2 separate regions of the Homo sapiens genome follow, and region 2 is linked to region 1. The links come from fine-mapping of genetic effects on gene expression. A gene starts in region 1. The other region holds a variant in brackets. All regions are shown on one strand. Distances are between the middles of the regions.

Evidence for each region. PIP is the estimated chance that this variant, and not a neighbour inherited with it, causes the effect.
Region 2: its variant is fine-mapped to the expression of MAGEH1 in prostate (GTEx, PIP above 0.99).

Annotation. Positions count from the first base shown.
Region 1 is chrX:55,446,971-55,457,838 of GRCh38, forward strand. It overlaps MAGEH1 (MAGE family member H1), which reads left to right and starts at 5,157. Exons shown (of 1, transcript NM_014061.5): 1 at 5,157-6,596. The coding sequence starts at 5,405. The coding sequence ends at 6,064. MIR4536-2 (microRNA 4536-2) reads left to right here and starts at 4,525; the gene lies at 4,525-4,612. MIR4536-1 (microRNA 4536-1) reads right to left here and starts at 4,612; the gene lies at 4,525-4,612. RefSeq lists enhancers at 5,370-5,419, 5,570-5,619.
Region 2 is chrX:55,398,153-55,409,020 of GRCh38, forward strand. No RefSeq gene overlaps it. Among named protein-coding and RNA genes, the nearest start is that of MIR4536-2, 48 kb to the right of the region's middle. The variant C/T (reference allele first, on the strand shown) is at 4,358.

The DNA of each region.
Region 1 (10,868 bases):
ACCAATATCCCTGATGAACATTGATGCAAAAATCCTCAATAAAATACTGGCAAACCGAATCCAGCAGCACATCAAAAAGCTTAGCCACCATGATCAAGTTGGCTTCATCCCTGGGATGCAAGGCTGGTTCAACATACACAAATCAATAAACATAATCCATCACATAAACAGAACCAATGACAAAAAAACACATGATTATCTCAATAGATGCAGAAAAGGCCTTCGACAAAATTCAACAGCCCTTCATGCTAAAAACTCTCAATAAACTAGGTATCAATGGAACATGTCCCAAAATAATAAAGGCTATTTATGACAAACCCATAGCCAATATCATACTGAATGGGCAAAAACTGGAAGCATCCCCTCTGAAAACCGGCACAAGACAAGGATGCCCCCTCTCACCACTCCTACTCAACATAGTATTGGAAGTTCTGGCCAGGGCAATCAGGCAAGAGAAAGAAATAAAGAGTATTCCCTTAGGAAAAGAGGAAGTCAAATTGTCCCTGTTTGCAGATGACATGATTGTATATTTAGAAAACCCCATTGTCTCGGCCCAAAATCTCCTTAAGCTGATAAACAACTTCAGCATAGTCTCAGGTTACAAAATCAATTTGCAACAATCACAAGCATTTCTATACACCAACAACAGACAAACAGAGAGCCAAATTATGAGTGAACTCCCATTCACAATTGCTACAAAGAGAATAAAATACCTAGAAATCCAACTTACAAGGGAAGTGAAGGACCTCTTCAAGGAGAACTGTAAACCACTGCTCAATGAAATAAAAGAGGATACAAACAAATGGAAGAACATTCCATGCTCATGGGTAGGAAGAATCAATATCGTGAAAATGGCCATACTGCCCAAGGTAATTTATAGATTCAGTGCCATCCCCATCAAGCTACCAATGACTTTCTTCACAGAATTGGAAAAAACTACTTTAAAGTTCATATGGAACCAAAAAAGACCCCACATTGCCAAGACAATCCTAAGCAAAAAGAACAAAGCTGGAGGCATCATGCTACCTGACTTTATAGTACAAGGCTACAGTAACCAAAACAGCATGGTACTGGTACCAAAACAGAGATACAGTCCAGTGGAACAGAACAGAGCCCTCAGAAATAATACCACAAATCTACAACCATCTGATCTTTGACAAACCTGACAAAAACAAGTAATGGGGAAAGCATTCCCTATTTAATATATGGTGCTGGGAAAACTGGCTAGCCATATGTAGAAAGCTGAAACTGGATCCCTTCATTACACCTTATACAAAAATTAATTCAAGATGGGTGAAAGACTTAAATGTTAGACCTGAAACCATAAAAATCCTAGAAGAAAACCTAGGCATTACCATTCAGGACATAGGCATGGGCAAGGACTTCATGACTAAAACATCAAAAGCAATGGCAACAAAAGCCAAAATAGACAAATGGATCTAATTAAACTAAAGATCTTATGCACAGCAAAACAAACTACCATCAGAGTGAACAGGCAACCTACAGAATGGGAGAAAATTTTTACTATCTACCCATCTGACAAAGGGCTAATATCAAGAATCTACAAAGAACTTAAACAAATTTTCAACAAAACAAACAACCCCATCAAAAAGTGGGCAAGGGATATGAACAGACACTTCTCAAAAGAAGACATTTATGCAGCCAACAGACACATGAAAAAATGCTCATCATCACTGGTTATCAGAGAAATGCAAATCAAAACCACAATGAGATACCATCTCACACCAGTTAGAATGGCAATCATTAAAAAGTCAGGAAACAACAGATGCTGGAGAGGATGTGGAGAAATAAGAAAGCTTTTACACTGCTGGTGGGAGTGTAAATTAGTTCAACCATTGTGGAAGACAGTGTGGCAATTCCTCAAGGATCTAGAACTAGAAATACCATTTGACCCAGTGATCCCATTACTGGGTGTATACCCAAAGGATTATAAATCATTCTACTATAAAGACACATGCACACATATGTTTATTGTGGCACTGTTCACAATAGCAAGGACTTGGAACCAACCCAACTGTCTATCAATGATAGACTGGGTTAAGAAAATGTGACACATATACACCATGGAATACTATACAGCCATAAAAAAGGATGATTTCATGTCGTTTGTAGGGACATGGATGAAGCTAGAAACCAACATTCTGAGCAAACTATCACAAGGACAGAAAACCAAACACTGTATGTTCTCCCTCATAGGTGGGAATTGAACAATGAGAACACTTGGACACAGGGAGGGGAACATCACACCCTGGGGCCTGTCGTGGGGTGGAGGGTAGGGGGAGGGATAGCATTAGGAGAAATACCCAATGTAAATGACGAGTTAATGGGTGCAGCAAATCAACATGGCACATGTATACCTATGTAACAAAGTTGCACGTTGTGCACATGTACCCTAGAACTTAAAGTATAATAATAATAGAAAAAGAAAATTAAATAAGTTGGAAATACAGTACGCCCAGCCAACAGGCAGACACTTGAAGAGATTATGGTAAATCCATTGCAAGGAATAACATTCAGCCACTAGAATGAAAGAATTAGAGGTATAAATTGAGGAGATTTCATTATTAATTAGGAAAAAGGTTTGCCTGGAAATTCAATATGGAATGGTTTGATTTTTATAAATGAAACAAAGTGGAAAGCCATGTGTTCTATCTAAACATATACATGCCAACACATCAGCAACCCTACTCGTTGATGTTGATCCTAGAGAAATGCATGCACATGTTCATAGGGAACATGCGCACAAATATTAATAAGAGTATTATTTTGTTTTGGAAAAATGGGAACTGCATAGGCGTGGATCATTAGGAACAGGATAAATTGAAAATGATGAAATGTACAAAATTAAAATAAATGAACTAGAGTTCCATGTATTTACATGGGTAAACATAAAAAATATAAAGTTGAGCTGGAAAACCAAAGTGTTGATCAATGTATACATTATGAAGACGTGCTTTAAATAAAGGAAGAGATTCTATATTGTGTACAGACACAGAAGTAGGTAGCAAATATATACAAGTCTCCATGGGCATAATTGCTGACTTCATTATAGAGGAGCACAGTGGGGAAGGAGAGAGCAGAGTGGGTCAGGGAAGACGTAATAGGAGGGTTTTGCCATATCCAATATATAAAAGATAAACAGTAAGTAGGGCCTAATATTTAAATTTTATACAGCTAGCTATTGGTGTTTATAATATTAATCTCTCTTCTTTGCCCTACGTTTGAGATTAAGTCGCAGTAAAAAAAAATTCATGCTAAAAACAAGCAAATAAACTGCAAAAGTAATCCTCCCATTTTTGTTTCATGAGGGTAGGATTGTACATGCTATAGACTTCCATGCAAGACCCAAATTCCTGGAAACAGTAAAATAAGTTCATACCTGTACTGAAAAACAATTCAGAGCAATTATCAATGGACCAGAAACTGCGAGAATTCTCAGAATGTGGGACAGCAGATGGAGCCAGACTACTGTTTTGAGTAGGTCATGTCCCAGAACGCGTGCAAAGGTTATCCCAAACGGAGGGCTGGCTCAAGAGTGCTCTGTGTCCTGGAGAGGTGCTTTCTTTGCTTGACCAAATTGATTTATTGCTAACTTACCCAACAGGAGGTCTCGGTGGGCTCTAATTATAAAGAAAATTTCAGCAAGACAGGCATAAAGTATTCATTTGTTTCTTAAGAGTTCAGTTAAGAACACCTATAAAATCTTTTCCATCATGAATTCCTTCAGCACGCATTTATTAAATGCCACACTCACACACCGCTTGGAAAACCTTGAGAGGCAAAATCTGTGCTTACCATGTAATAAATGCTTTTCATTTTTTATCTCATTTAATTCTCACAACCCTATGAGGGCTGTACTTTAGCCCCACTTTATAGATGGGAAAACAGGCTTAGAGAGAAGTGACTTGCTTAAACTAATACCTTGAATGACATAAGAAAGATATAGAGTGCTAGTTATAGGGCTTTCCTCAATGGAGTAAAAATGGACTCATTACCCTTTTGGGCAGATCAAGACAAGCTTCAGGGAGAAACAGGTCTGTGAGCAGTCAAATGGAATTTAGATAGTTGGAGAAGGCTGAGAAGACAGGTCAGGCAGAGCAAACAGTGAGCAAAAGCAAGCAGTGGATAAAGTTCAGAGTATGCTCTGAAAGAAGCAAAATAAATCAGGAGTCCAGGAAGACTGGAGCCTAGAAACCTTGGAGCCAATCTGAACTCCATCATCCCCTCCACATTCCCCACTTCATCCATTCTGTCTGCAAAGCCCTTCAACGGTCACCTTTAAAATGTCTTTCTGCCTCTCCATCCCCATGGCAACAGCCTTAAGGCATACTTTAGTTCCCAGTGCTTCTTATTCCAATTGCTTCCTATGTGGTCTGCCAGGAAACAGTTTGCTTTTCTGAGAGGCTGCACAAATGCAATTCCTCTGATCCTGTCACTGCCCTGCTTTCATACATACATACATACATATATGTGTGGTAGATATATGCACTGTATATAAACATAATGTGGTAGATATATGCACGATATAGGTATGTATGTATGTATGTATAAAAGCAGGGCAGTATATATATCGTGCATATATCTACCACATTTTAAAGGCTCTGCACCTCTTTCACCCTGCTTGTTTCTGCAGTCCCATCTCCTCACATCATCCAGCACATCTGCCATAACAATATTATCCGGGTCCTACATGGGACCACAAATTGATTAGTATACACACAAATGCCTTCTGAAAACAGGGCGAGTGAATGAACGCGCTGTGTAAGCCAAGACAGGAAAGGAAGGCTGGAGACAGCTGACTCCTTCCAAGAATACACCCTCCCGCCACCCCTGGCCTCCCAACCCCCAACACACACACAGCCCGTCGTCAGTGGGAATGGAGCCGACGCACTCCTTCCCTAGACCGTCGAGCCAATCTTGGAATGTTTGTAGTAGGCTGAAAATACAGAAACTTTAAGCTATTTTTTTCTCTTCTGCAAACTCCAGGCCCCTCCAATCTCTAGCTGTCATTTCTGCCCTTGTCCCACCCCTGTCGCTGCCTGCCCCTTTTCCTATCTGCTAGCGGAAGTCCCTGTGGAGGACCAGCCTACTTCCTCTTTGGTGCTAGGAGTGTGCGTGGCAGGAGAGGCGGGGCCAATTTTGCTGAGCTTTCTCGCGGGCTTGCAGCTGCGGCAAGTGCTGGCGGCGGCTGCTCGCGCAAGTCAGCTGGCGTGGGAACTACCCTTTGTAGCTGAGAACGGCTTGTTTATTGCTACAAAGACTCTATTGACATTGGTAGCTTCAGCGGCAGCAGCTTCTTACGGTATAAAGCTGTTGCTTCCTGAAGAGGCTACAAGCATCCTTCCCTAGGACTGCTGTAAGCTTTGAGCCTCTAGCAGGAGACATGCCTCGGGGACGAAAGAGTCGGCGCCGCCGTAATGCGAGAGCCGCAGAAGAGAACCGCAACAATCGCAAAATCCAGGCCTCAGAGGCCTCCGAGACCCCTATGGCCGCCTCTGTGGTAGCGAGCACCCCCGAAGACGACCTGAGCGGCCCCGAGGAAGACCCGAGCACTCCAGAGGAGGCCTCTACCACCCCTGAAGAAGCCTCGAGCACTGCCCAAGCACAAAAGCCTTCAGTGCCCCGGAGCAATTTTCAGGGCACCAAGAAAAGTCTCCTGATGTCTATATTAGCGCTCATCTTCATCATGGGCAACAGCGCCAAGGAAGCTCTGGTCTGGAAAGTGCTGGGGAAGTTAGGAATGCAGCCTGGACGTCAGCACAGCATCTTTGGAGATCCGAAGAAGATCGTCACAGAAGAGTTTGTGCGCAGAGGGTACCTGATTTATAAACCGGTGCCCCGTAGCAGTCCGGTGGAGTATGAGTTCTTCTGGGGGCCCCGAGCACACGTGGAATCGAGCAAACTGAAAGTCATGCATTTTGTGGCAAGGGTTCGTAACCGATGCTCTAAAGACTGGCCTTGTAATTATGACTGGGATTCGGACGATGATGCAGAGGTTGAGGCTATCCTCAATTCAGGTGCTAGGGGTTATTCCGCCCCTTAAGTAGATCTGAGGCAGACCCTTGGGGGTGTAAAAGAGAGTCACAGGTACCCCAAGGAGTAGATGCCAGGGTCCTAAGTTGAAAATGATGTCGATTGGGGGCGGGGGACACTGTATTTGATATTTGTGATCAGTGATCATTGTTCAACTGCGAAATAGAGTGTTTGCTTTTGATAATGGAAAATTGTATTCGTTTTAAAATTCCGTTTGTTGAGAATAACAATATGTTTAAAAATATAATTGAACAAATTTTTTTCTTTGTTTCCTGTCATTGACATTTAGTATAACAGTTTTGCTAACGTTCTAAAATGAAGTCGTTCCATCATAATCTATGATCTTGTACAGCACTTATAGAAATAAGCTGTTCTTTTGAAGTTGAAATACCCAGTAAAATGTTGAAGAAGGATGGAGGATTTCTTCATATCTGACGTTTCTGAAACCCTTTGTGTCTGCTGTTGTGTGAAGATTGACATTTACCATGATTTTCCTTAGTTACTGCAGAACATAGAGAAAAATAAAAGCCTAACGAATAGTACATCTTGCGCATTTTCTGACCACCTGTTATGTGAGGCACCAGTCTAGATTCTAGGGATACTCCCTAGTACACATCCTCCAGGTCCAAAGAATGTTCTAGATTATGTGGGAAAGAAAAATAGGTAAACTGGCAGTGCAGTAAATGCTGGGATAGAGAACGAGCCTGAAGTGCCATGAAAATGTAAAAAACCTTATGTGACCTGTCTTGGGGAGTGGGCCGGGGAAGGGAGCACCATAGGATGTGTGAAAATTCAAGAGACACTTAAATAAGTTTGGGGGGGACTGAAATATACGATCAGAATATATGATGAAAATATTATGTATTAGATATTTGATTGGATACTCCACCCAGCATAGGGGAGGGAGCACTGGCAAAAAGAAGAGGACATCACAGGGTGCCTGCCACGGAAGTAGAAAATACACAAAAATCATCTTGAGAGGAGGAGGGCAGAGAGAAGGGGTGGTTGCAGGGGAAAAGGTTGTCATGGGGTACTTCAGAAATAAAAAAAGATGAGACCGTCAGAAAATCTTGGTGAGGGGACAATCTGAGGTTTGGAAATAATAGAGAAGAAGGGGAGGGAGTAAAAATGGAGGCACTGAAGGTAGCGTGGACATTTGGAAATAAACTCTTCACCGAACTGTTAAGGTTATATGAAGGGGAAAGTGGAGAACAAGGAATGAGGCAAGGGAAGAAGTGAGCGGGGCAGACCCTCAAAGGGTGGGTGTTGTGGCTGACTTTAAACTAATGACAATAAAAATGGTTAATAATAACAACCCTGAAATAATTCGAGAAAAGGCTATAAAAAAGCAGAACTTCTGAGATACTGGATGAGCCAGAGAAAAGGCTCCACCTGTGGCATCTCCGAAAGGTAACCTTGCACTTCTCTCAGGAACTATGGTTCGTTAGGGTGCACACATTGTTTAAAAGTGTGTGTGTCCAAGGGGGCAAAGGGGCAATGGAGTAAGTCCGGATTGGTACCTGGCACGATGGCCCATGCTATACTAAGTCATGTGGGATCAGGCGCAAATCCTACCACCTTTTCTCCAAGAGCTAAGCACTGCATGAACTAGGTCCCCTGCTGGGGAGCACTAGTGACAAGTGCCCAACCTAGCCCTGTGGGGCTCATGGTAGCAGCTATAACACACAAAAGAGTGGTCAGGCTACCTTCTTCCTTCTTGACATCCAGGCTCACGCTGCTTCCAGCTGTGTGCAAAGTAACGTCACTAGGTGCAGGGTAGGCTAGCAAATGACCTTCTGGAGAAGGCCCAGGGACCCACTCTCCTCAGCTTGCAGGCCAAGGAGGCTTCAAACAAAAGTAGTAACTATGACCCCATCAGCAGCTCCAAATTCATTCAGCAAGCCAGAAAATGGTGAGCGCCTTCTGGGATTCAGACAGTGTGTTAGAAACTGGAGCTGCAGAAAATCAAAAGGCCTGTTCTTTGCCCTGGGAGGAGCTGTATTTATCAATACCACCTCCAGAGGTAAACAAGGTGGGAATCTGAGGTCCAGGTTCCTCGGTGACTTTCTCTTCTAGAGCCACAGAAGTGGCAAGAGAGAGATCCTAGACAAGACCCTATGTCCATTCCCTGCAAACCCACAGTGCTTTCCTCTAGGCCACCCTGCTGCCGGTCTCTGCCTGCTAGTGCACTCTCAAGGTCTCTGTCCTCAAAAGAAACACCACGTGAAGGCAGGGGAAGAGGTGTGAGTAACCCTGGCCGCGGCATCCAATCCTTCTGGGGACCAGGCCGGATTACATTCCTCCCCCGACCCGCCCTTTTACCCAAGGGGGCTTACAGCAGTCAGTCAGCCCCAGGTCAGTCAGCTAGTAAGTGGGAGAGCTGCAGAGTAAAAAGATTTGTTGAGCACCTGCCTGTCCCAGAGGCATGCCACATATTATCTCTGCCAGGCCGGTGTGATTACTGCCCATTTAACAGGATGCTCCTCCGGCTAGCTCAGGGGAAGAGGTAATGTCTTCCCCAACCCTGTCTGAATCCATGCTTTCTTCGGCTCTGGTGGCAAGTTATCATCCAATGGTCTAAAATGGTTCTTTGCAAGTACGGGCCAAGAAGCTTAATTCAGTCAGAGAACCAGCAGTATAAGAGGAGAAAGACTGGGAGAATACCTCCAGCTGCCCTGTCAGAGAGATGACTGCTGGAATCCTGAAGGCCTCAGGCAGGAGGCTCTGCAGGGGATTGGGAAACAAGGGATTGGGTGACAGGTGACCTGCCCTAGCGCAAGAAGGAAGCGATCAATGGGCCAGGCTTATTCTCTTGTGGCCTGGGGGTTCAGTCTCCCTAACACACTACAGGAGTACTGCAAAGAGTTAAACTTCCTTTGATTAGATAAAGGCTGAAGAAGGGCGGGACTTCCGGTGGCTGTGAAATGAAAGACAGGGGTGAGGGAGAGGCAGGGAAAGGGGCTTCTGGAAGGTGGAGAGAAAAAGAAAACATTCACCGTGCCATTTACAAAAATTCTTTGAGCTTTGCGGGGCATCCAGATGAGACATCCAGGTGCAAGCCTCTTGCTGAGTAAATCTGAAACCTAAACTGGCCCCACCCCAGCGGAGGTTCCACAAAGCAAGTGGGAAAGCTGCAGTTTTAGGTGCAAGGATGCCTCTGAAAAGCGATTGAGTTTCTGGGTCCTAGAACACTCCAGTTGTTAGGATAACTCAAGGATAGAGAGCCCCAAGCTGCCCAAAGCCTAGCAAACTTGGCAGCTGGCATTTACCGAGTGCCTAAATTGTTCCAGGCACTTTGATTGCTGTTTTCATGCATTGTCTCTAACTTTGCAGTAGTCCTGCAAGGGAGATGCCACCAGGCCAGGCCGAGTTTACAGAGGAGAAAACCCCAACTCAGATCTCACAAGCAAGTTGCCAGGATCAGCTGGCTGGTCACTGGCAGCCTTGCAGGTGGACCCAGGGCCTGCCAAGTCTGAAGCCCATGCTGCTATGCTACAGGGAAAGACTCCATCTCCAGGACAGCTGGGGCTGGGAAAGTCTTCTGTTTTCAAACTTGGACACATGGCAGGGTAGGAGTGACAGGGAACATGCCGGGGTCAGGTGAGGAGGTGTGGGAAAATAAAATTAATCTGCACTTTCAGGATTAGCTGTGGCAGTCTGTCCCTTTATTTGGAAGGGCTGGGGCCCTATTGCCAGGCATCTTTGAGGGATCATATGTGTGGAGTGAGCATTTCCTTCCAAGACAAGTGGACTTCCCCATCACGACACATTCCCCAGAAACTTAACTACCCAGCACCCTCCATCAGTCCTCAAAATCCTAGGTCCTGGCTTTCCCACGGTGGACCAAGCAAACAACAATGTTTCTGAGCCTGTGACATTGCTCCGATACTGTTGCCAATGCAGAAGATACTGGCAGACCTCTTCCCTTGAGCAGAGCAACCGGGATAAGATGCTGACAGACAGCAAACAGTGGGCATCTGCCCATGAAAAAAAGACAGGTTCCAGGGCATCCTCCTTGGGCCCAGTGTTGCGGCCTTGGCCCCAGCAGGCAAGTGCAGAGCAGACAATGGCCATGACCAAAGGGAGATTTGGATTCGGCCTGGGCTCACGTTGGCTCCTGTGAGGTGGGTAGCGGGCAGGATCCCCCCGACTCTTTTCTTTGGCAGAAAGGTAGAATTCTGGCCTTCTGGAGGAAATTATTTTGGAGTCGTGGTGGAGGTGGAGAAGGGTGATTCTTACGAAGATGTGCTGAGACCTGTACACAGATTCCTCCAGGGCTCGTGAGCCATGGAACAGTTAAATGTCAAAGAGCAGATGGAATTTCTTTGAAAATCCCTGTGAGGGCACTTTGTCAAAGGAGGGGCTCAGCTCAGCCAAGACTACATAGAAGAATAACTGGAGTAATCTGGGGCTCAGAGACTGGAGGAGAAGTGGGCTCTAGGCTTGCACTGCTCATCATGCAACAGGCTTGCAAAGCTCACAAGGGTGATTTGGAGGGGAAGGCAGAGTCTATACACAGATAGTGAAAATCAGGCCCAGTTCTTGACTGGTCGACTTCCGCCCCAGTTCCTGTGGCAAATGACACCAGTGTTGCCAATGTTATCTCCACATGTGCAACGCATGAGAAGTGGTTGAGATTCCTCCTGTAACTTGGACCACGGAGGCCTGTGTAGTCTCAATAATAATGTAGCCTATATTATTTTGCATGTTGTGATTATCCAATGATTCATCCATTCACTCTTTCAACGAGTGCTTATTAAGGTCTACTACGTGCCAGTCTAGTCAACTGGGATTCATAGGTGAACAAATCTCAA
Region 2 (10,868 bases), 49 kb before region 1:
CAGATTCAGGAAATACAGAGAACGCCACAAAGATACTCCTCGAGAAGAGCAACTCCAAGACAAATAATTGTCAGATTCACCAAAGTTGAAATGAAGGAAAAAATGTTAAGGGCAGCCAGAGAGAAAGATTGGGTTACCAACAAAGGGAAGCCTATCAGACTAACAGCTGATCTGTCAGCAGGCACTCTACAAGACAGAAGAGAGTGGGGGCCAATATTCAACATTCTTAAAAGAATTTTCAACCCAGAATTTCGTATCCAGCCAAACTAAGCTTCATAAGTGAAGGAGAAATAAAATACTTTACAGAGAAGAAAATGCTGAGAGATTTTGTCACCACCAGGCCTGCCCTAAAAGAGTTCCTGAAGGAAGCACTAAACATGGAAAGGAACAACCAGTACCAGCCACTGCAAAAACATGCCAAAATGTAAAGACCATCAAGGCTAGAAAGAAACTGCATCAACTAATGAGCAAAATAATCAGCTAACATCATAATGACAGGACCAAATTCATACATAAAAATATTAACTTTAAATATAAGTGGGGTAAGTGCTCCAATTAAAAGACACAGACTGGCAAATTGGATAAAGAGTCAAGACCCATCAGTGTGCTGTATTCAGGAAACCCATCTCACGGGCAGAGACACACGTAGGCTCAAAATAAAGGGATGGAGGAAGATCTACCAAGCAAATGGAAAACAAAAAAAGGCAGGGGTTGCAGTCCTAGTCTCTGATAAAACAAACTTTAAACCAACAAAGATCAAAAGAGACAAAGAAGGCCATTAAGTAATGGTAAAGGGATCAATTCAATGAGAAGAGCTAACTATCCTAAATATATATGCACCCAAGACAGGAGGACCCAGATTCATAAAGCAAGTCCTGAGTGACCTACAGAGAGACTTAGACTCCCACACAATAATAATGGGAGATTTTAACACCCCACTGTCAATATTAGACAGATCAATGAGACAGAAAGTTAACAAGGATATCCAGGAATTGAACTCAGCTCTGCACCAAGCAGACCTAATAGACATCTACAGAACTCTCCACCCCAAATCAACAGAATATACATTTTTTTCAGCACCACACCAGACCTATTCCAAAATTGACCACATAGTTGGAAGTAAAGCACTCCTCAGCAAATGTAAAAGAACAGAAATTATAACAAACTGTCTCTCAGACCACAGTGGAATCAAACTAGAACTCAGGATCAAGAAACTCACTGAAAACTGCTCAACTACATGGAAACTGAACAACCTGCTCCTGAATGACTACTGGATACATAATGAAATGAAGCCAGAAGTAAAGATGTTCTTTGAAACCAATGAGAACAAAGACACAATATACCAGAATCTCTGGGACACATTCAAAGCAGTGTGTAGGAGGAAATTTATAGCACTAAATGCCCACAAGAGAAAGCAGGAAAGATCCAAAATTGACACCCTAACATCACAATTAAAAGAACGAGAAAAGCAAGAGTAAACACATTTAAAAGCTAGCAGAAAGCAAGAAATAACTAAAATCAGAGCAGAACTGAAGGAAATAGAGACACAAAAAACCCTTCAAAAAATTAATGAATCGAGGAGATGGTTGTTTGAAAATATCAACAAAATTGATAGACCACTATTAAGACTAATAAAGAAGAAAAGAGAGAAGAATCAAATAGATGCAATAAAAAATGATAAAGGGGATATCACCACCAATCCCACAGAAATACAAACTACCATCAGAGAATACTACAAACACCTATATCCAATAAACTAGAAAATCTAGAAGAAATGGATAAATTCCTCGACACATACACTCTCCCAAGACTAAACCAGGAAGAAGTTGACTCTCTGAATAGACCAATAACAGGCTCTGAAATTGAGGTAATAATCAATAGCTTACCAACCAAAAAAAGTCCAGGACCAGATGGATTCACAGCCGAATTGTACCAGAGGTACAAGGAGGAGCTTGTACCATTCCTTCTGAAACTATTCCAATCAATAGAAAAAGAGAGAATCCTCCCTAACTCATTTTATGAGGCCAGCATCATCCTGTTACCAAAGCCGGGCAGAGACACAACCAAAAAAGATAATTTTAGACCAATATCCTTGATGAACATTGATGCAAAAATCCTCAGTAAAATACTGGCAAACCGAACCCAGCAGCACATCAAAAAGCTTATCCACCATGATCAAGTAGGCTTCATCCCTGGGATGCAAGGCTGGTTCAATATACGCAAATCAATAAATGTAATCCAGCATATAAACAGAACCAAAGACAAAAACCACATGATTATCTCAATAGATGCAGAAAAGGCCTTCAACAAAATTCAATGACGTTTCATGCTAAAAACTGTCAATAAATTAGGTATTGATGGGACGTATCTCAAAATAATAAGAGCTATCTATGACAAACCCACAGATAATATCATACTGAATGGACAAAAACTGGAAGCATTCCCTTTGAAAAGTGGCACAAGACAGGGATGCCCTCTCTCACCACTCCTATTCAACACAGTGTTGGAAGTTCTGGCCAAGGCAATCAGGCAGAAGAAGGAAATAAAGGGTATTCAATTAGGAAAAGAGGAAGTCAAATTGTCCCTGTTTGCAGATGACATGATTGTATATTTAGAAAACCCCATTATCTCAGCCCAAAATCTCCTTAAGCTGATAGGCAACTTCAGCAAAGTCTCAGGATACAAAATCAATGTGCAAAAATCACAAGCATTCCTATACACCAATAACAGAGAAACAGAGAGCCAAATCATGAGTGAACTCCCATTCACAATTGCTTCAAAGAGAATAAAATACCTAGGAATCCAACTTACAAGGGATGTGAAGGACCTCTTCAGGAGAGCTACAAATCACTGCTCAATGAAATACTAGAGGACACAAACAAACGGAAGAACTTTCGATGCTCATGGATAGGAAGAATCAATATCGTGAAAATGGCCATACTGCCCAAGGTAATTTATAGATTCAATGCCATCCCCATCAAGCTACCAAGGACTTTCTTCACAGAATTGGAAATAACTACTTTAAAGTTCATATGGAACCAAAAAAGAGCCTGCATTGCCAAGTCAATTAAGTCAAAAGAACAAAGATGGAGGCATCACACTACCTGACTTCAAACTATACTACAAGGCCACAGTAACCAAAAGAGCATGGTACTGGTACCAAAACAGAGATATAGATCAATGGAACAGAACAGAGCCTTCAGAAATAATACCACACATCTACAACCATCTGATCTTTGACAAACTTGACAAAAACAAGAAATGGGGAAAGGATTCCCTATTTAATAAATGGTGCTGGGAAAACTGGCTAGCCATATGTAGAAAGCTGAAACTGGATCCCTTCCTTACACCTTATACAAAAATTAATTCAAGATGGATTAAAGACTTAAATGTTAGACCCAAGACCATAAAAACCCTAGAAGAAAACCTAGGCAATACCATTGAGGACATAGGCATGGGAAGGACTTCATGTCTAAAACACCAAAAGCAATGGCAACAAAAGCCAAGACTGACTAATTGGATCTAATTAAACTCAAGAGCTTCTGCACAGCAAAGGAAACTACCATCAGAGTGAACAGGCAACCTACAGAATGGGAGAAAATTTTTGCAATCTACTCATCTGAAAAAGGTCTAATATCCAGAATCTACAAAGAACTCAAACAAATTTACAAGAAAAAAGCAAACAACCTCATCAAAAAGTGGGCAAAGTATATGAACAGACACCTCTCAATAGAAGACATTTGTGCAGACAACAGACACATGAAAAAATGCTCATCATCACTGGCCATCAGAGAAATGCAAATCAAAACTACAATGAGATACCATCTCACACCAGTTAGAATGGTGATCATTAAAAAGTCAGGAAACACAGGTGCTGGAGAGAATGTGGAGAAATAGGAACACTTTTACACTGTTGGTGGGACTGTCCAACAACTGTGGAAGACAGTGTGGCGATTCCTCAAGGATCTTGAACTAGAAATACCATTTGACCCAGCCATCCCATTACTGGGTATACACCCAAAGGATTATATGCTATAAAGACACATGCACACGTATGTTTATTGCAGCACTATTCACAATAGCAAAGACTTGGAACCAACCCAAATGTCCATCAATGATAGACTGGATTAAGAAAATGTGGCATATATACACCATGGAATACTATGCAGCCATAAAAAAGGATGAGTTTATGTCCTTTGTAGGGACATGCATGAAGCTGGAAACCATCATTCTTAGCAAACTATTGCAAGGACAAAAAACCAAACACCGCATTTTCTCACTCATAGGTGGGAATTGAACAATGAGAACACTTGGACACAGGAAGGGGAACATCACACACCGGGGCCTGTTGTGGGGT[C/T]AGGGGAAGGGGGAGGGATAGTATTAGGAGATATTCCTAATGTAAAGGACAAGTTAATGGGTGCAGCACACCAACATAGCACATGTATACATATGTAACAAACCTGCACATTGTGCACGTGTACCCTATAACTTAAAGTATAATAAAAAACATTCTGTATTCTCATGCCTCTTTCAATTGTCCTTTTATTATCTTCCCCATAGTGTCCAGCTCCTCTCAAGTTCTGCTCCAGATTGATTTACATTTCAATTTACTCTCAATTCACTGCTTTAATTCGTGTGCTCAGTTTACCTTCTTGCCACTGCCAGGTTCTGCCTACTAACAGCTTCACAATTGAATCCATTTTGTCTAGCTTTAGTCCCAAGCAGCCGTTTTTAGAGCTGACCAAGGATTGGGTATATACTGAGACAGGATGCTTACAAGAGAAAACATTCTCCAAAGACACACATATTTACTTTACAAACAGTGTAAAATATCACTTTTTGTGCTTATCTCCATAAAGGTGAGAGAATGAGTTACCATGTTCCAAGAATGAATGGATTAATTGGGGATTAATCACTCTGATCACCCTTCTGTTTGTCAACCTTTTGTTTTCCAAATGATTATTCTACATGTATGAACAATTTGTAATAATTAAAAATACAGTAGGTACATCTTTATGAAAATATATTAAAATGTTCAAATATGGAAAATAATAAATAAAATGTTAAAATAGACATAAAAATCTATAAAAATCATCTTTATGAAATACAAAATCAATAACGCCCCTTGATTCTGATAAGTGCACAATTTGTTTGGGGGAGAAAAGTTAAAAAATATCCATTGCCTTAGTAAAAACAAAGGATCAAAATATTTTTAAAAGTGACAGGAATAAACTTGTGGCCTGGGAGAAAAAGCAACAAAACAATTAATGCTGAAAAATAATTTCTAAATGGTAAAAAGAGTGATTGTAAATGATTTATGACCGTATTATTTTGATTTTGAAAGTTTGTTTTCAAGGAAACTGTTTGAATCTTCTCAACTGGGAAGTTTCCACTTATCTTCTACAGAGCTCTCAAGATTTGCCCCAGCTGGTATCTGAGTGACAGCAGGTACAGTAATATTCCTTCTAGTTAGTATCTGTGGTGATACAAGCATTAGGAGATATACCTAAAGTTAAATGATGAGTTAATGGATGCAGCACACCAGCAGGGCACATGTGTATATATATGAAACAAACCTGCACATTGTGCACATGTACCCTAAAACTTAAAGTATAATAATAAAACAAAGAAAAAAAAATGAAACTCAAGCATTCCTTTAGGAGGGCAGTGTCAGAAACCCCAGGAGCCTAGGGCCTCTCACTAGAGACTTTTCAATTATCACGTGACTCAGGAGACTGCCTCAGGCTTCTCATGTGCTTATTTAGACTGTAGGCTTCTAGCTAGAGCAGAGTACATACCCTCCATTGCTGTGTAACCTGTGAATGGTGATCTCTATGTCTTTTCACATTATCATGCTTCTTCATTCACACAAGTGTGGTTTGTGGAGATTAAATGTAAACCTCATGTTTGCTACCTAGACACGCAGACTCTTATTTCCAAACCCAAACCTGAAATAGGAATCAGAATATTTTCAGACTTTTCTTTTTCTTTCTTTCTTTCTTTTTTTTTTTTTTTTGAGATGGAGTCTAGCTCTGTCACCCAGGCTGGAGTGCGGTGGCACGATCTTGGCTCACTGCAACCTCCGCCTCCTGGGTTCAAGCGATTATCCTGCCTCAGCCTCTCGAATAGCTGGGATTACAGGCACCCGCCACCATGCCCAGCTAATTTTTGTATTTTTAGTAGAGATGGGGTTTTACTGTGTTGGCCAGGCTGGTCTCGAACTCCTGACCTCATGATCCGTTTGCCTCAGCCTCCCAAAGTGCTGGGATTACAGGCGTGAGCCACTGTGCCCGGCCTAGACTTTTTTAGAATAATCCATTCACATCACAGCAGTGAGTGAGAATTTCAGGGAGCAGATGAAGTTTATTCCTCAGTGTTTCACCAGAAAAACCTGCATTGGCCACATTCTCTAACCAGAAGGATTCCCCTCTATATTCTTCTTCTGGGAAGCCTCTAAATTTCTCTAGATCTTGCCCTACTTGGTTATCAGCTCCCCTCTACCCCCATTACAATAGAACAATTATAAATCAAATGTAAGAATCTCTCAGTTTCTAAAGCTAAATGGGAACACCTTACCCTTTACTGAATTTTGCCTTGAAATATGTAAAAAGACATTTAGTATTCTAAAGCTAAAAACAGCACTCAGAAAAAAACAATCTCCTCCACTTAGTATAACTGACTTCCTTAAAAGGCAATAGAGAATTTTAAGTAAACATTGTTTTCCTATGGATACATATACAATATAAACGGGCATATTAGTGTTGTTGTTAGGTAGGATGGAGACATTGAGTCTCATGTTACTTCATTAGCAGTATCCATTCAGATAGCCACCTACAGATATCTATTAGAAGCAAATAAAATATAACATACATACAGCATGCTGTCACTCATCTAGGGATTAAAGTCATTTGGACCCATGGAACTGGCATTTGGACCAATAGGAATGTATTGATCAGTGTTTCACTGATTACAAGCTGATTGTAAGCGTTGCATTATAGCCTTATACCAGCTATCAAAACTAGGTTTTTCAACGTTAGTAGTTGATGTAGAATTTTAAGACTCTCACCAGCACATTAGAGCAGTCTGCTGCAGAAAGGTGTGCATTAGGCAGATGTGTTTTTACCACCTGCTTTCTGTCTTAATAATGCAAATAACAGTTATGGGGCCCTATTAAGTGCCGGGTGCATTTTTGATGTGTTATCTGATTTAATCCTCACAATATCCCCCTGGGATGAATATAATTATCACATTTTATAGATGAAGAATATGAGACATGGAGAGATTAAGTAATTGACTAAAGATCAAATAGCTAATAAGTTGTCAAGCCCAAGATGTGAATACAGGTCTGCTTTGACTCCACACACCCTATATTTATCACTAAAATATAAAGCTCTCTGGCATCTGGCATTCTGATTTTTTTAAAAAAGAAAATAGCCCAAAGTGGGAAGATTAAACTTTGTTAGGAGACTAGTATTTTCCCTCACCAAGAGGCTCAGCTACATTTTGCTGGTGGTACAATGTGAAGACAGTGCAAAGGGAAAATAGCTGGGTGACAGGTGGGATTGCTAAGCAACAGTTTATGAAATCCAGTGAAACCATGGCAATGGAACACTATGGTCCCAGTCATGAACCTATTCAACATTCAAGAGTAAGACACAGCTATCGGGAACATCTGGTAAGATAAATCAAGAGTGCTATAAACTTTGGAAATATAAGGCATCAGTATCACTATTGTTATTACCAACACATATGATACAAATAATCAAAGCAATCAGTGCATTTCAAACAAATAATTGCTTCATTAAAAATGTCATTGTCACATATAGAAACTTTATTTTCCTTGACAAACAAATTTTCTGCTTTCTTTTCTCATCAAACACAACTCTTCACTTTGATTAAAGAATGGATCTGTGCTACACCAGAACACTTTGCATTTTAAAGCATTTTGGATTTACAATGTGCTTCCTGACAATGTGTTTCTGACAATGATGCTGAAACAGGTATTATCATTCCCACTGCACAGAAAGAAAAACTGCAGCTTTAAGGAATTTAAGCAACTTGTCCAAGGCACACTGTTAGTCAATATCACATCCTAAACTTCTACAGAGGTCTACTTCTAGACAAGAGCTTCTCCCAGTCAAAGTACTTTTTATAATTCCCTAAGCCACATACCTATCTGAGAATCTGACCAAGCTCGTGGTCCCTTCCTCTGTCCTTTTTGATGATTGTGTCATCTCCCTGGGCTTTGTCAGTTATTACATACACCTCACCCCAAATGTCTGTGTCCTAAGAGTTTGATCACAAAAATGGACCCTTGATCTAGCAGCAACTCAAAACCCTGCTTAACTTTCTGCCTTGCACTAACCTGCACCAATCCACCTTCTCTATGCCCAAACCAGCACTTTAAATAATGAAGTCAGGAGACATTGTTTCGCAAGACCCTTTCAGGCTAGAGTAATACCTTTGTCCCTCTTTCTTACTCTCAAGATTGTCTATGTAGGGTAGACTTCCACACTCGATATGAAACATATCAGTTAAGGACAGTGTACAATACTTTAGAGGGTAAAAACTCATGTTTACTGAAGTTCTGATCATTCCATTCTCCATCATCTTATGTAAATCAGAAGACATAAGCCTCATTTTTCCAGTTCCAGTTTGACTTGCACCATTGACATTATAGCTAGAAGGATCCACTTCGATATGCACTGTTTACAGCCAGAACTGCCTATTATAGAACATGTGAGAAAAGCTGCAATGTCAGAATGCAACATTTCTGTGAGGTGTAATGCTCTAAAAATTCTTTTGGAGATAATTATGATGACTGAACATGCATGGATATGAGATACACACAATCATGATCACCTTTGACCAGTGCCTCCTCAATGTGGTCCCAGTATTTGGAGAGTGTAGTGGGGCTCAACTCTATTTGAATGGCTATTCGCATGTTACAGACAATAGAGAGTATCCACACTTGCAGTGATACAATGCTTAGCTATTTCCTAATGTCATGCATTTCCTTACAGGTCTTCTGAGGGTCTTCTATACATATAATGTCCTCAGTTTACCACTTCTTATTACACATAAGTCTTATAGAAGAACATCCTAGGAAGAACATACAAGGAGGCATCAGACTGGTATGTTCAGTGAACTAAGTACAACATCTGAAGTCTCCTCAGTTTTTTAGTGGACACTAAAGTTGGTGGTGATGGTATTCCTTGTACCAGATCACAGAAAGCTCTATCAGGAGCAACTTAAGCCAGATTAAGAGTTAATAGGAAGGAAACCAGATCTCTACAGCTTATTGGATTACTGTCCAAATAAATTACAGATATAGTTAACTACATTATTCCTCTACGGACTAAGATCTTCCACATGGTGTTGTAAAAACATTTTTTTCAGTAGCAGAACCTTTTCTTCACATATTACCTCAAACCCCAAAGCATAAAACTTTGGTTGAAGCATTCAGTAGCAGAGAACTTTTTGCAAATATTACTTGGAACCCCTCAAGTAAATTCCAGATTCTCACTAGCTTACTCTCTACCTTGCTTCCCAAGGTAGTATTCAAGGCAACTTCATGGAACTCATGGGCATCAAGAACCATAGTTGTAAATTAATGTAGAATAGAGGAACCAGCCCTCTGAGTAAGACATAAAGATGTAAAGAGGAGTCAGCAATGAAATCTCTGCAGCTCTGTATCTCGCATCACAGCCAAAAGCTCTAGGTTTGATATTCTACCTCAAGTGTCTAAGATGAAAATTCCAAAATCTTGGATCTTGAACTGCTTTCTACATGGGTGAGTTTTAATTCCAGAAAGATTATAAATAATATACATATGACAAACTGAATTGAATCCATGCTCTTAAAATTTTGTGTACAGATTAGGAATAGTCTCTATATATCTTTTATTTAAAGGTTTGCAATGGTAAGAGAATTGGGCATATTAGAGAGTTCAGTGGTTACTAATTTTAAATGTGTAGTTGAATTAATGATTAGATTTGAGAATTTTATATTGAAAGTTATATGAGAATTTTGCAAAACTTATAAATTATATTGGAATATTTAGGAGAACTTCAGTTTTACTATATTTATATGATTATTTTGATGTTTTATCTAAGATCTTGAGAAGATTTGTTTGTGAGAAAATTGAGGTATTTAAAATGAAACTCAAATATAAATTTATCAATTCAGTTTAAAATATGCAAAGAAACTTAATAAACTTATAAATGCTCCCTTGAAAATGACTGGTAAAGTAAGTTGATAAAAATAATTTAAATTTGACATTAAAAACTTTAAAAAACTAGGATTTTTAGTCCATAAATTTAACAAATTATATGCTTATATCAACATTAACCGAAGTGGCCTTTCTTGTGCACAAACACTGCTTTCGAGAGAACTAAAAAACTCACATTGATATTTTTCAGCTAGTTATTCATAGAAGCCAATGAGTTCTCACTAGAAGTATCTTCTCCATGAAGAGACAGGGTGTTGTCTTGAGCCTCTTTTATGTCCCTCCAGAATGTGGGCCTCCTGCTAAGAACAGTGCAGACCTGTGTTGTCCAATATAATAGCCACTACCTACATGTGGCTACTAAGCAGCTGAAATAGGGCTAGAAATATTGAGATATTGTGTAACGGTGAAACACACTCTGGAATTTGAAGACATAATATGAAAAAAAATCTAAATATTTCATCTATGATTTTTAATAGCTGTGTTAACATACAATAAACTGCACGTAAAGTGTACAACAGTGAACATATCCAGCACTCCAAAAAGTTTCCTTATACCCCTTTTTAATCTAACTTTTCTTCCCATCCCTCTTTGTGACTTGTCTTTAGGCAATTACTGATGTATTTTTGTCACTATACAT